4 linked regions of the Homo sapiens genome follow. The protein of the gene in region 2 purifies or fractionates together with the protein of the main gene of each other region. This does not show direct contact. Each region holds a gene or a part of one and is shown on either strand. Other genes may lie near its edges. The genes, in order: RSPRY1, ZDHHC9, ATP13A3 and TPX2.

The links.
Region 1: the proteins of ZDHHC9 (region 2) and RSPRY1 purify together in Homo sapiens (co-immunoprecipitation; one large-scale study listed by IntAct). This does not show direct contact.
Region 3: the proteins of ZDHHC9 (region 2) and ATP13A3 purify together in Homo sapiens (co-immunoprecipitation; one large-scale study listed by IntAct). This does not show direct contact.
Region 4: the proteins of ZDHHC9 (region 2) and TPX2 purify together in Homo sapiens (co-immunoprecipitation; one large-scale study listed by IntAct). This does not show direct contact.

What each region holds. Positions count from the first base shown.
Region 1 is NC_000016.10:57,203,329-57,207,110, reverse strand, and holds part of RSPRY1 (RING finger and SPRY domain-containing protein 1 isoform 1 precursor), read right to left. Parts: intron 2,608-3,782; 5' UTR 2,453-2,607; coding exon 2,103-2,452; coding exon of another isoform or gene 2,099-2,102; exon of another isoform or gene 1,730-2,098; intron 1-1,729.
Region 2 is NC_000023.11:129,809,105-129,812,886, reverse strand, and holds part of ZDHHC9 (palmitoyltransferase ZDHHC9), read left to right. Parts: exon of another isoform or gene 1-66; coding exon 67-169; intron 170-1,377; coding exon 1,378-1,481; intron 1,482-1,885; coding exon 1,886-1,982; intron 1,983-3,782. UniProt on the Homo sapiens protein: Palmitoyltransferase that catalyzes the addition of palmitate onto various protein substrates, such as ADRB2, GSDMD, HRAS, NRAS and CGAS. The ZDHHC9-GOLGA7 complex is a palmitoyltransferase specific for HRAS and NRAS.
Region 3 is NC_000003.12:194,476,731-194,480,512, forward strand, and holds part of ATP13A3 (polyamine-transporting ATPase 13A3), read right to left. Parts: intron 1-3,782. UniProt on the Homo sapiens protein: ATP-driven pump involved in endocytosis-dependent polyamine transport. Uses ATP as an energy source to transfer polyamine precursor putrescine from the endosomal compartment to the cytosol.
Region 4 is NC_000020.11:31,798,282-31,802,574, forward strand, and holds the end of TPX2 (targeting protein for Xklp2), read left to right. Parts: intron 1-83; coding exon 84-271; intron 272-2,688; coding exon 2,689-2,799; 3' UTR 2,800-3,519; downstream 3,520-4,293. UniProt on the Homo sapiens protein: Spindle assembly factor required for normal assembly of mitotic spindles. Required for normal assembly of microtubules during apoptosis. Required for chromatin and/or kinetochore dependent microtubule nucleation.

The sequences.
Region 1 (3,782 bases), on a different chromosome or scaffold from region 2:
CAATGCATATTTGCGCTGTTCACTGCAGTGCTGTTTGTAAGAACAAAAATTTGGCAGTAACCTAAGTGACCATCACCAGATGAAAATGTAACAAAATATAATACTTTCAGGCATACAAGGGAATACTCTGTAATAGTCAGAAGCAGTTGTAGATTTATATACAGTAACACAGATTTCGATGTTGAGAAAAGTTAAAAACAAAGAGGTTTGTATAACTATGTCACTCTCTTTTAAAATATTGCAAGGGGCCAAGCGTGGGGGCTCACATCTGCAATCCCAGCACTTAAGGAGGCTGAAGCTCGACAATCGCTTGAGTCCAGGTATTTGAGACCAGCCTGGGCAACATGGCAAGACCTGGCTCTACAAAAACTTTTTTAAAAATTAGCCAGGTGCAGTAGCACACGCCTGTAGTCCAAGCTACTTAGGAGGCTGAGGTGGGAGGATGGTTTGAGTCCAGGAGGCTGAGGCTGCAGTGAGTCATGATCACGCCACTGTACGCCAGCCTGGGTGACAAAGTGAGACCCTGTCTCTTTAAAAACAAAACAAAACAAAAAAACTCTCTCTCTCAAAGTCTATTCTGCACCCATTTTTCCAATGAGCTTAAATTAACATTGTTTGTGGTTTACTTCCTTATTTGGGAAGGATAACTTTTATTACAATTTGGTACAAGGGATTTAAAAAATTTTTTTTGATTAATTAATTTTTGAGACAGGGTCTTGCTCTATTGCCCAGGCTGGAGTGCAGTGGTGTGATCATAGCTCACTGCAGCTGGAAACTCCTGGACTCTAGCAGTACTCCGGTCTTAGAATCCTGAGTAGCTGGGATCACAGGCAAGTGCCACTGTACCTGGATAATTTTTAAATTTTTTTTGCAGAGATGGGATCTCCCTATGTTGCCTAGGCTGGTCTTGAACTCCTGGCCTCCAGCTATCTTTCTACCTCAGCCTCTCAAAAGTGTTGGAATTACAGGTATGAGCCATTGTGTCTGGCCAAAAAATTATTCTTCTCGAAGACTAACAAATGCTCCAGTATTTTATGGAAAAGTTTAATACAGCTCTAAAAATTCGTTTGTATTCACAGGTACACTCTGTTTTATGCTTAATTTTTGAGGAACTAAACGAAACTGGGTTTCTATAAATGCGATTATCAAATGTTTATATACTTAAATTTACTAGCAGGGCCTGAAGCAAAAAGAACACATAAGTAACTTTTTAAAAAATACTACCATCTACTGAGCAACTGTTAAGTACAAAGCTCCACACTGAATGCCTTATGTACATTATCTCATGATAATCCTTGTGGGAACAATATTATCCCCCCATTTACAGATGAGGAATCTGAGGCTTCAAGAAGTAACTTACCCAATGTCATGCAGTTAGTAAGGCACTGGGCCAGAACTTGAGCTAGGCCCATCATGGTTCTAAGCTTTGTGCTCTTAACTACTGAAATATACAACCTTAAGTTAAATGTTTTTTTCTACTTGGATGCCCTTTAATTTCACTGTTATTCAATCTATGATTTTGTATTTAGAGGTAGACAAAGCAGAGGAAAAGACAAAACAGGTACAGGTGTGCCTTGCAGTATCAACTGACAAGCTTCCTAAATGGATTAAAGATAGTCAAATAAGGGATAAAGGATCAAATAAAGGATAATGAAAACTCTCCTTGACCTTAGTCCTTATGTTGCCAAGAGAAGTTGCCTGTAGCCATGTTCTTGGTAAAACAACTTACCTTGAATCTGAGGTCAGTGGAATAGACAGGCATGTACCATTAACAGTGAGCCTTCATGAAACCATTTCCTATTGTAGCTAGCAACATAAACTCACTCCATATTTACTCTATTCTCTAATAAAGATCATAGCTTTATCGTGTTTTCTGCTACAGAAACATTTAGACATTTCCAGACAAAGTAGATGACAGCAAGCAAAAACATCAAATCTTATCATTTACTCTGCCATCAGCGGAGCATTAAAATATTCTCCTTTGCCCTGTGAGCACAAGGCTTGGCGAGTATGTCCTAAAGGAACTGAAGGAGTCCTAAAGTCATGGTTCCGGGCAGAACACTTTTCATTCCACTGGAGGTGACCGTGAGTCAGATACTTACTTATCTACAAGAGTCCGTATTACTGCCAGTGTGTCCAACACTAGCCCATCCACATTTTGTTTCTTTCTCCTTGGCTCATGAGGTCCTCGGCCCCTCCTTGGTGGCCGAACAGGGTCCCGTGGTTGGCTCCTTGTGTCAGCAGTGGGTACTGCACTGTTCTCGGCCTGTTGCTGTTGGGTGTCAACACTGTCATCTGTTCCACTGTCATCTCGGCAGATACAGGAATTACCCATGGTAGTAGCGGCACCTCCAGTCCCTAGGAAGTGGGCTATGTGCTCTTCGAGAGTCAACAACAGACCCTGGCCAAGGCTTCTGCTCGCTAAGAACACGGCCCAACCAAAGACGATCATTTAGGTAGTTTTCAGTTTTCCAAGTACTGTTTTCATAACCTGGAGTTGAGGAATTTGCATCCTATTTGTTTTTAACAACTGAATGCCAAAGAAAGTTGCAGAGCTTATTCCCAACATTATCAACTACAGGGGATTCTGGACATCCAATGGCAGTTCTAAAAGAAAATGAGAAAAAGGAAAATGAATAAAAGATTCTTGACCACTTAATTACTCAAATTTTCCTAGTCTGATTTTATAGATATTAGGATTCTAATGAAGAATTATCTTTGGTTATTTTTATAGGTTTCCAATACAAAGAGATAGCTTTGGATAACAGAATTCGCAATCAATCAATAATTTCTTTTTATCATTCTGTTACAAAGTTGATTGCCAAACCATATTCTTATAGACCAGAGGAGTTATCATTGATTTTTTTAAAACCACATGTATAGTTTTTCCTGTCTATATAGAAATACATTAGAAGGATGTGTGCATTTTTTTTCAAGGGCTCCTTTTATCATAAAAAAAGAGTTGTCTTTCTGTGTAAGAGGTAGGTGTTAAAAAGAGAAAAATCTTTAAAAAAATGAATTAACTCCTTTCTTTAAACCCATAGGATAATTTAACAAGTTTTAAATAAAATAATTACAGACGTTTGTTGTTAAAAAAAAGTTATGATACAAATATGATAGCACCATTTGATATCAAGGAGAATAAAAGGATAGAGTTTCCCATTGGAAGCTCACTCAAGAACTGACAGAATTCATACAAGTTGTTGCAAAGTGTTTCTGTTATGTAAGCAAGGCTTTGTTTTGGGAAAGGAAAACTGATATCACAAAAGTTGTATTTTCACAATGATCAGTTTGTTGCACATGTCTATTACAAAGTTCAGAATAAGATGCACCAATTTATCTTTGCCTGAAAATACTGACTAAGGACCTTGTGCCAGGTACCACGCTGGACTAGGAGAATAAAGATGAGTAAGGAATAGTTCCTGCCCTCCAGGAATTCATGGATGGCCATTCTCATCCCACAAAGTATGTTTATCATTAAAAACCTAATGAAAGAACCAGCTCTTCAAGAAGCTGGTAAAATCTGGTTAGATTCTGGAAGGAAGTAAAGATTTAGAAATAGGAGACTTACATGGGCTGGTAGCAAAAAGTAAAAAAACAAACAAACAAACAAAACAGGCTGACAGCTGGAGAACAGGCCACATAAGGAATAGACTATGCTAGTGTGTAGTCTCTACACAACATCTGGCTAGTTACAATTAATTCCTCATACCTTGAGCACTGACCAGGAATAATATAAACAAAATTTATAATTCAGTGGAATTAGAAGAGAAATATTACTC
Region 2 (3,782 bases):
GAATATGGGCGGAGGCATCAAGTCTCCTGATGTTGAGTTCTTCAATACTCCTTAACCACACCTCACTGTTCTAGAAGTCCTCATTTGCTTCTTTACACTCTGGTCCGTCGTGGGACTGACTGGATTTCATACTTTCCTCGTGGCTCTCAACCAGACAACCAATGAAGACGTGAGTCAACTTTCTCTTCTCCTCACCACATATTCTTCTTCCCAAAGCCTATCCTCTTGCTACCTGCTAGAGAACTACCGAGTCTCCAGGGCCTGGGAGGTTGAGGCAGGCAGAAACGTGGTATGCGAGGTTGTTAAGTCAGATGTGTGGAAGAGAAAGGAGAGGGCTTTGTTGAATGCTTGTGGAGCATTAGGAAGAAGAGGTTGAAAAGTTGGGTGGGTATACAGCCTTTAACTGTTCACAGGTCCTTAAAGGCTAGCTGGTGCCTCTGTTTGGCATGGAGAGGGACAGTTGCACTGGATGAATCCTTGCTATATAAAAAGTTACCAATTAGGCTGGGTGTGGTGGCTCACGCCTGTAATCCCAGCACTTTGGGAGGCTGAGGCGGGCGGATCACCTGAAGTCAAGAGTTCAAGACCAGCCTGGCCAACATGGCAAAACCCTGTCTCTACTAAAAATACAAAAATATAGCCGGATGTGTTAGTGTGCACCTGTAGTCCCAGCTACTCGGGAGGCTGAGGCAGGAGAATCACTTGAACCCGGGAGGTGGAGGTTGCAGCGAGCAAAGATCACGCCACTGCACTCCAGCCTGGACAACAGAATGAGACTCTGTCTGGAAAAAAAAAAAAAAAGTTAGCAATTAATCTACATTCACTGTAGAAAATCAGAAAATACAGATGAGCAAAAAGAAAAAAGTAAGTTCCTCTTACTTTACTTCTTAGACATCACCTTTGTTAGTAGTATGATTTATATATTCTAGACTTGTCTAGACTTTTTTCCATGTTTATTTATGTGTTTATATTATGTACTTTTAAATAAAAATAGTATATATCATTCAGTTATCTGCTTTTTTCACTCTATTGTGAGTATTTTTCATGGCTGTGTATGTATTTCTTTTTTGTTGTGATAAAATATACATGATATAAAGTGTGCTATATTAAATGTCTTTCAACCCTGGCGATCAATGGGGTGACAGTTGTTGCAGCCAGATCGCCCTCATATCCTAAATGTACAGTTCAGTGGCATCACATTGTTGTGCAACCATTGCCACCATCCATTTCCAGAACTTTTTTATTATCCCATGCTGCATGTGTTTCTTCAACATTATTATTATTATTTTTCTTTTTTGTGTCTGTTTTTAATTTTATTATTATTATTTGTTCATTTTAACATTATTTTTAATGTCAGCCTTGGTTTTTATCTTGCAGATCAAAGGATCATGGACAGGGAAGAATCGCGTCCAGAATCCCTACAGCCATGGCAATATTGTGAAGAACTGCTGTGAAGTGCTGTGTGGCCCCTTGCCCCCCAGGTGCTCAGGGCACTCAAAAGTCCTGGGACTGTTGGGATGAGCAGCTCAACCTGATCCTGTTACCTTGTCTGATGTGTTTTTCTGAGTGTGGCCTCTTGGTGTCAAATAGGTCTTTCCAGGGCTTGCCACTTGGTACCATGTCTACATGGACCATAGACCATGGGCTGGTTGTTTTGGAGGGATGATCTTTCATTCTTAATTTCATTTGTTTGTTCCCTGGTTAATGTGACATTTCCTGGTTTGTGGAAGAAAAAGTGAATGGGAGATAAGAGGCATGTGCTGTGTTCAGGCTAGATTGCCAAAGGACAGGTTTATATTTTCCAGTCTATGCAGCAAAATTCCGTAGGCCAGGTGGGTGGAGGGGTGAATGCCCAGTTCTTTGTTAACTCTCTTATCTCCTTCAGTGTGCTGGATCGAAGGGGTATTTTGCCACTGGAGGAAAGTGGAAGTCGACCTCCCAGTACTCAAGAGACCAGTAGCAGCCTCTTGCCACAGAGCCCAGTAAGTGTTCCTGACTTAAGGCTGGGTCGATATAGAGAGGGCGGAGGCTAATTTACAGCTTGGAAATATAATTAGGCAATATTGTATTCTAATCACCCCAGCTTCCCTGCCTCTACACCTGCCCTGATGTTGCCTTCAGATCTTTGTGTCCTTGATGTAGATTAAGATTTAGTCATTTCTTTGGTGTATATTGAGTGACTCTGTGCCAGCCACTGTACTAGCTGCCAGGGTTATACCAATGAATGAGGCAAACGATGTCCCTGCTCTCAAGGAGCTCATTGTCTAGTGGGGGCAAGAAACAAGTAAACAGGCCATTGCTCAACATTGTGAAAAGTGCCTTGATGAGGAAAGCATAAAATGCTATAGGGGCAAAGACAGAGGTCAGGGGATTGTATTAGAGTTAGTGATGTGGTTACTGTGGTAGAAGGGGGCTTCCTAACTGGAATATGCAAAAGTTGTGGAAACTCTCCCAGCTGTCCTATTTAAGATATATAAAGTATATCTTTAAAGTATATAAAGTACTTTCCTAAAAAAAAATATTACTTGAGCTTTTTTTTTTGAGATGGAGTTTTGCTCTGTCACCCAGGCTGGAGTGCAGTGGTGTGATCTCGGCTCATTGCAACTCCACCTCCCAGGTTCAAGCAATTCTCTGCCTCAGCCTCCGAGTAGCTGGGATTACAGGCGCCCGCCACCATGCCTGGCTAATTTTTGTATTTTCACTAGAGACAGGGTTTCACCATCCTGGCCAGGATGGTCTGCATCTCCTGACCTCGTGATCCTCCCGCCTCAGCCTCCCAAAGTGTTGGGATTACAGGCGTGAGCCACCGTGCCCAGCTGAGCTTTCTTTTTTTAATAAGAACTTTATTGAGATATGATTCACATACCATAGGTCCCAATTTTTTTTTTTTTTTTTTTTGAGACGGAGTCTCGCTCTGTCACCCAGGCTGGAGTGCGGTGGTGCAATCTCAGCTCACTGCAACCTCCGCCTCCCGGGTTCTCCTGCCTCAGCCTCCTGAGTAGCTGGGATTACAGGCATGTGCCACCACGCCCAGCTAATTTTGTATTTTTTAGTAGAGACGGGGTTTCTCCATGTTGGTCAGGCTGGTCTCGAACTTCTGACCTCAGATGATCTGCCCACCTCAGCCTCCCAAAGTAGAGGATTACAGGCGTGAGCCACTGCGCCCAACTGATCCCTATTTAAAATGTATGATTCACTGGTCTAGAATATTCACAGAGTTGTACAATCATTATAACAATCAATTTTAGAGCATTTTCGTTACCCTTCCACCCTAAGAAACCCTGTAGCCATTAGCAGTCACTCTCCCTTTCCCCTGAACTTCCCCAGCCACACCCCTAGGCAACCACTAATCTACTTCCTTTTAGTACAGATTTCTCTCTTCTGGGTATTTCATGTAAATGAAATCATACAATATGTGGTCTTTTGTGACTGGCTTCTTTTACTTAGCATGTTTTCGAGGTTTGTCCATGTTGTACTATGTAGCAGTACTTCGTTCCTTTATATGGCCAAATGATATTCCATTATATGGATATACCACATTTCATTTATCCATTCATCAGTTGATGGACATTTGGATTGTTTCCACCATTTGATTATTATGAGTGATGCTGCTATGAACATTTGTGTACCAATTTTTGCATGGCCATATATTTTCATTTCTCTTGGCTATATACCTGGGAGTAAAATAGCTAGGTCACATGGTAGCTCTATGTTTAACCTTTAAGGTACTGCTGAACTGTTTTCCAAAGTGGCTGCACCATTTTATACCCCCACTAGCAGTG
Region 3 (3,782 bases), on a different chromosome or scaffold from region 2:
AAACTGGTAAAAGAGTACCTTCAAAGTAAGTTGTTGTTTTTTTTTTTTTTCAAAACAATTAAATTGAACTAGATTAAATAATATTAAGCAGGCCTCTCACTAGCAAAGTTTTGAAGTCTTACAACGCACAACATGATGTATTTCCCTGCCATGAGGAACTGGGGCGGAAGGGAGCCTCAACTGGGTTCCAAGGTCAAAGTCAAAACTGATTGCAAGACATGTAAGATCCTACAGACTCTGGCCCCGCCTAGTTGTCAACACCATCTGCCATTCATCAGTGGTTATCACTCGCCCCTTACAAACCTTACATGTCATTCATTTAGAACACAATCTGTAGTTCTTCAAAGAGCCCTACTGTTCCCTGACTCCACTTCTTTATATAGAATATTCCTTCTGCCAAGAATGCCCTTCTCTTAGTCTGGCTAAAGAGCTCCTACTTGCTCTTCCAGGACCAGCTCAAGCTACTAAGCTTTGATTGTCCCTTCCATCTCCTAGCAGAGGACTGCCCCCACCTTTCTCCCACCTCTGCAGGTATCAGAGCACTTTTCCAACAACGTTGAACTTATAGACTAAAAACCTTAAAGGCTGGGAACCAGGCAAGCATCCAGCAGTGCAGCTGAATAAAGGAGACAGGGCAAGACTGGGTGAAGGAGGGGTGGAATCCCTCTTCTTTTTGTGGGCAAAATTTGACAACAAAGTAATTTTGTCTTTGGCATGCTCCCGCATCTCATCCCTATTCCCCTTTCCCAGCTCTCCCAATATCCTGTGTTCCCAGGTCCCTTAGTGACCTCATGGAACTCTACACAACCTCCACCACAGCACTATGTTCTTCAGATCAACCCTTCCTCTTCCTCTTAATCAGGATCCTTCTGTTCAGAAGTTAACACATAAATTAGTGACAGCTTCTCATAGCTGTTAACCTAAGATGAATCACTAAGAAACAAAATTTTAAAAGAAGTATGGAGAGGATATGGGGAGTGGACACTCTATCGCACAGAAAGACTGGCCCAGAAGCATCTAGGAGTCTCTTCCTGACTGGGCCCCCCAGAAGTGTTTCCACCTCACTTCATCCACTCCTACAGATTAGCTGCAGTGAGTGCTACAGGTAGAGACAGAGCTGGGGCAGACACTACCATCCTACAGATCATCCATTCTTCTTGGGTTGAATACCTCTGTGTCTTTGTTTTAGTTTGAGACCACTTATGGTTAATTCTTCAGCAGACAGAAAGTTCTCACCAACATGTTCACCAATGAACTTAAAACAGTGTCTTCACTCTAGCCAAGCAGTTCCCTGAAATCTAACCCCAAACTACTGCTTGACTAGAAAAAGGTAAATTAAATCAGAAAACCAAGATGTTGTCAAGTATCCTAATTTTTCAGATAAATCTGTAAATATTAAATTAGCATTCTAGCAATAATCATTCTGGTTTATTGCCAATTTGATTTCATAAAAACTCATTTGTTAGAATGGTATTGCCTACCATGTGCCAACTAGTGGTCTAAATGCTGGAGGTTACAAGATTAAATTTCTAACCTTAAGGAACCACATCTAGTAGGCTAGACAAATAAGTAAGCAAACAAATATCAAACAAAATGGTGACCAATGGCACCAGGGAGAAAGAGAGAACCAAGAACAGAAAAGACTTCAAAAAAGAACTATCTCTTGATCTAAGACCAGAAGGATGTAAACTTGATCAAGCAAACAAGCAGTAAGAGGAAAAATGTTAGGGAGAAAATAGAGAGATGAAACCCAAGCAGGGGAACTGCCACATGCAGAGGTACTATAGTGAGAGATCCTAAAAAATGCCAGGAAAACAAGTTATTTAAACTGACTGGTGCACGGGGTGATAGCCTTTGAGGAATAATTACAAATGGAGGTTTAGAAGGATAGGACAGGATCAGATTATAAGGAAGGGTCTTGTTAGACATGATAAACAATACAGATTATCTTGTAGGTGATGGAGATTCTGAACTTTTGTCACCTGAAAGAGATCCTAGGCCAGGCCAAGGAGCCATATTCCTGAAGAATACAACGTGAATGGTATCCTCTGGACTTGTGCAATGCAACAGCACAGTGTTTACCTGCTGGACTGTGTATGTGTAAGAGAGAAGAACTCATTCATCGATGTCTCCCCAGCATCCAGCCCTGTGTTTGGCATGTACAGGAACTAAAACACTATTAAATAGTTAGAAGTACCAACACAGTCCTAAAGGCATAACCAAGAGGCCCTAACCAAGCCCCCTTCCTTGCTACCTATAAAATCACAACTCTTATACACTACAATAACTTATCATTGCCACAACTATTAAGGGAACATGAAGAATAGTGAGTCACTATGGGCCGCACCAGAGATTAGAAAGGATTGGGGCGGGGGGTACTCTTTAAGATGCTTCTGAATCTGACTAAATTAATGAGCTTATTCTATTCTCTTCATCAAACACTGAACAGAAAACCATGGGTTAGCTTAAAATTATTCTTCAACTAACTCTAAGGCAGTGCTGACAATTATGAAAAGTACATTTTCATATCAAAAAGACCCATTAAATATTTCAATTAAGCGTGTGCTAGGTTAGTCTAGTCTTTCAAGTAAGTGCTACAGACAAAATTATGTCATTTGCCTATTGTACTTTACATTTTACTTAGTATACTAATCTACTTATTATAATTAGCATTAAATAGGTTTCTATCTTTTGTGCTTAGGAAAATTAGAAACATAAACATTAAAAAAAGGAGAAACAAGGAAACTACAGATGAAAATTGTAAATGAGCTTAGAAAACTGGTGACTTAAGAAGCTAAGGCATGATCTAGAGATGAATGAAAAATCTTTGGTCTAAAAAAATAAAGTAAAATAAAATAAAATTTAAAAAAAAGAAAAATCTTCGGTCTATAAGGAACCAGTGACTAGGATTCCATGTTTAAAGAAATCTAAAGGTCACAAAATTGAAATATAATTCAAAGTCTTCTTTAAAAAAAAAGTAGAAATATTTGACTAATCAGAATTTTTAAATGAAAATAATGCATATAAAGTCCTATAAAATAAATACAATTACAGATAGTTTTAAATTTTATAAGGTGGTCAGAGACAGAGACATTGGGTAACAGTAACAAGATGGGAGAGAAAACAGACTGCAAACACACCAGAGACACAAAGAGAAAAACTAAAATATACATAAAATGTATATCGGAGATACATGAGGTTAACATCTTGAGCTTTTGAGGATGTTGCTACTAAAGATACAAAATCATAGATTGTTTTGGACATAAAAAGCCTGAATATAACATTATTGCCTGCTGTTCCAGTTAACAAAAAAACAAAGAGCAATCATCAATCACACCCCACACACACATCTGACTTGTTTTGAATATCTTCAATGTTACTAAGTTAACAAATAATAAGTTACCCTTCACTCAGACTCTTATCCTTACAATTCTCTAAGGTACCCTTTATCACCTCTATCTGGCAAATAAAAAAGCTCTCAGAGGTTCAGTGACTTACTTAACCCAGACTACAAGACTGGTATGTGACAGAGCTGTAATTCAAAATCACTATGGCTCTGAAGCCCACATTTTTATCCAATACACCATGCCCTCTCCCAGGACATAAGACTGTTAAGTTTTTAGCCACCATCATGTTTTTACATACTCATGTTTTCTTACTGTGCTATCCCCAGAGTAATACTTAAGTTTAGATACTTTAAATTTCATGGAATCCATTAATAATTTACATCGCTCTTTTAAAACAATGCAGATCTTGCTAGCAGTAAGGAATAAATTTATTCT
Region 4 (4,293 bases), on a different chromosome or scaffold from region 2:
CTGTGCCACTTGCTCATTCCAGGGGGCGTAGGTTTATGCAAGTCCTGCTTGTGCACCAATATTTTTTCTGTTTCTGTACTTAGAGGGCCTTTCTGGTTCTCTAGTTCAGGAACCTTTTCAGCTGGCTACTGAGAAGAGAGCCAAAGAGCGGCAGGAGCTGGAGAAGAGAATGGCTGAGGTAGAAGCCCAGAAAGCCCAGCAGTTGGAGGAGGCCAGACTACAGGAGGAAGAGCAGAAAAAAGAGGAGCTGGCCAGGCTACGGAGAGAACTGGTAACTGGGAGCATGAGCACTGACGAACACAAACATGCCTCTGTTTTATTTTACCTGTACCTTACCTTGTACCAGACAGGATCTAAGGTAGCCCGCAAGGCTGTACCAAAGACAATGAGTGAAAGGGGGAATTGCACAAACTGAGGGTGGTGATGAAGTTGAGTTGTGAATGAAGCTAACGATGTGTACATTGTGATCTAAGTAGGAGCTGTAATTTTGGCCCTTTTTAGGAACCAACCTGTCAGTTACAAAACTCGCAGTGTTCATGAGACATAAGACAGTTGTTCAAAAAATACATTTATCCCTTTGATAGTGAATTTTTAGACAGAATTTCTTCCGGAAGTTTTCATAAGGAGGACAACATGTGGTATAACCATGATGCCTTTCCTAGGACTGTTTTTTATTTATTTGTTTATTTTATTTATGTAACTTATTATTTCCTCTGGGGTTAAGAAGCACCACTGAGTTTTGTAATTAGACAAGAATACATAGCGAAGGACATGGGAATTAAATGGCAACTGTATTTTTGTTTTAATACTGAGCCCAAACTCCTTGGAGTTACAGTGTTCGTCGCTCCAGGTAATCCTCTACTAACATAATTATTTAGATGTTGGTTATCCAAAAAGAAACCTGAACTCCACATTAAGGACCAATCTGCTAGGAGGGCAGCAAGTTGTGTTAACTGTGTTAATGAAGAAGCAGACAGTTTTAGATGGAACTTCGTATGATAAATAAAAAAAGAAAGGGTCATGGGGAGATGTTGGTAAAAGGTTACTTAGTTACAGTTAGATGGGAGGAGTAAATTTCAAGAGATCTATCATATAACAAGGTGACTGTAGTTAATGATATATTGTATTCTTGAAAACTGTAAAGAAAGTGGATGTTATGTGCTCACACTACAATAAGTGGATGTTATGTGCTCACACTACAATGTTAATTAGCATCTTGCTAATTAACAAATGCATTATCTCACATAGTAACCATTCCATAATGTATGTCTACTTTAAAACATCAGCGGTACACAATAAAAATATACAGTGTTATCTGTCAATTAAAAAGAAAGAAGGCCAGGAATGGTGGCTCACACCTGTAATCCCAGCACTATGGGAGGCCCAGGTGGGTGGATCACTTGAGGTCAGGAGTTGGAGACCAGCCTGGCCAAAATGGCGAAACTCTGTCTCTACTAAAAATACAAAAATTAGCCGGGCATGGTGGCACGCACCTGTAATCCCAGCTACTCGGGAGGCTGAGGCAGGAGAATTGCTTGAACCTGGGAGGCCCAGGTTGCAGTGAGCCGATTGTGCCACTGCAGTCCAGCCTGGGGGTGACAGAGCGAGACTGTCTCAAAAAAAAAAAAAAAAAAAAAAAAGAAGTGTAAGTTGTTGAGGTTTTGTCTAAAAGTGCTATACTACAGCTGGATGTGGCAGCTCACACCTGTAATCCTCACACTTTGGGAGGCCAAGGTGGGAGGATTGCGTGAGCCCAGGAGTTCAAGAAAAGCGTGGGCAACATAGCAAAGTCCCATCTCTATTTTAAATAAATAAATAAAATGCTAGACTAGCAGTTGAAACAGCTATTGGCAGCTATTGGCATAGGTGATTATGCCCATAGGAAGGTTCCACGGACACACTATTTAGGAGACCAGCCTCTTGGTAAAATCTAGACTACCATTTGCTGAGTGAATGAGAAAATAGTATAATCCCCACTCTATATACACTCATACAATCAGCCTTTTTTCCCGGCCTCAACTTTGATTTTTCTTTAGCATTTGGTACCTGCCTCTTGTGTTTGTCCCCATTATAGAACTGCTTCTTGCAGCAATTCTCAACATAACTGATGGCAACATTGTAAAGCACAATTCAGTCAATGCTGGTTAACTCTCTACTAATCTGGCTTGATTTAGGATTGATTTTAGACTACCCTAAAGGATGGATGGGACCATGCCTTCTTTAGCCACCCTTCCTGGTATGGTTGTTGTGTTTTGTTTTTGCTTTTTCCCCAGGATTCAGGCTTTTGGTGAATATTTATAGTCAGTAAACTTAAGACTGTACTCTGGGAAATTCTTAGCTTGTAACTTCTCTGCTATACTTGAGTACAGCCCTATTATACCCTAGTAAATCACACAGGACATAGGTTTGGCATTCTTTAGTGAAAGCTGAGGGACTTGAGGAGACTGTGGCCTAAAGGAAAGCTGGGGGACCCAATAGAGACCTGAATAGAAACCCTTTTGGGCTCCAAAGCACATACACTTTTCCATCATACCGTGTTGCCCCCCAGGCCCCACTCCCCACACCTGAAACTAGTGACTGGGACCTGTAAAACTCTACAAACATTTTCTCAAAAAGAAAAAAATAAAAGCAATTATAAGCGTAGTTCTCTGACATCCCTCTCACTGGTAACTTTTCCTTACTTTGCAGGTGCATAAGGCAAATCCAATACGCAAGTACCAGGGTCTGGAGATAAAGTCAAGTGACCAGCCTCTGACTGTGCCTGTATCTCCCAAATTCTCCACTCGATTCCACTGCTAAACTCAGCTGTGAGCTGCGGATACCGCCCGGCAATGGGACCTGCTCTTAACCTCAAACCTAGGACCGTCTTGCTTTGTCATTGGGCATGGAGAGAACCCATTTCTCCAGACTTTTACCTACCCGTGCCTGAGAAAGCATACTTGACAACTGTGGACTCCAGTTTTGTTGAGAATTGTTTTCTTACATTACTAAGGCTAATAATGAGATGTAACTCATGAATGTCTCGATTAGACTCCATGTAGTTACTTCCTTTAAACCATCAGCCGGCCTTTTATATGGGTCTTCACTCTGACTAGAATTTAGTCTCTGTGTCAGCACAGTGTAATCTCTATTGCTATTGCCCCTTACGACTCTCACCCTCTCCCCACTTTTTTTAAAAATTTTAACCAGAAAATAAAGATAGTTAAATCCTAAGATAGAGATTAAGTCATGGTTTAAATGAGGAACAATCAGTAAATCAGATTCTGTCCTCTTCTCTGCATACCGTGAATTTATAGTTAAGGATCCCTTTGCTGTGAGGGTAGAAAACCTCACCAACTGCACCAGTGAGGAAGAAGACTGCGTGGATTCATGGGGAGCCTCACAGCAGCCACGCAGCAGGCTCTGGGTGGGGCTGCCGTTAAGGCACGTTCTTTCCTTACTGGTGCTGATAACAACAGGGAACCGTGCAGTGTGCATTTTAAGACCTGGCCTGGAATAAATACGTTTTGTCTTTCCCTCCCTGATTGTGTTATTTGATGTTTTTAAATCTGTTAAGCCCCTTTGGAGGTCACATCTTATTGGGAAATGGGTAGTTTGAGAGGTGGGTCCAGGAACTTTTTTTTTTTGAGATGGAGTCTCGCTCTGTCGCCCAGGCTGGAGTGCAGTGGTGCGATCTCTTCTCACTGTAAGCTCTGCCTCCTGGGTTCACGCCATTCTCCTGCCTCAGCCTCCCGAGTAGCTGGGATTACAGGCGCCCGCCATCATTCCCGGCTAATTATTTTTTTTGTATTTTAAGTAGAGACAGGGTTTCACCGTGTTAGCCAGGATGGTCTCGATCTCCTGACCTTGTGATCCACCCGCCTCGGCCTCCCAAAGTGCTGGGATTACAGGCGTGAGCCACCATGCCCGGCCCAGGACAGTACTTTGTAATTTTTTTCTGTCTTATGTCAGAATATCTCCATATTCTGTTAACTCTCTCTCAGTAACCACTTAATCATGTATGTTATGCCTTCACACAGACTGTACCTTCTTCCCTAAAGACTCAGCTCAAGTTAAATTTTTTTTTTGAGATGGAGTCTCGCTCTGTCACCTAGGCTGGAGAGCAGTGGCACAATCTCTGCTCACTGCAGCCTCCCGCCTCCTGGGTTCAAACGATTCTGCCTCAGCCTCCCAAGTAGCTGGGATTACAGGTGTGTGCCACCATGCCTGGCTAATTTTTCTATTTTTAGTAGAGATGGGGTTTCACCATGTTAGCCAGGCTGATCTCCAACTCCTGACCTCAAGTGATCCACC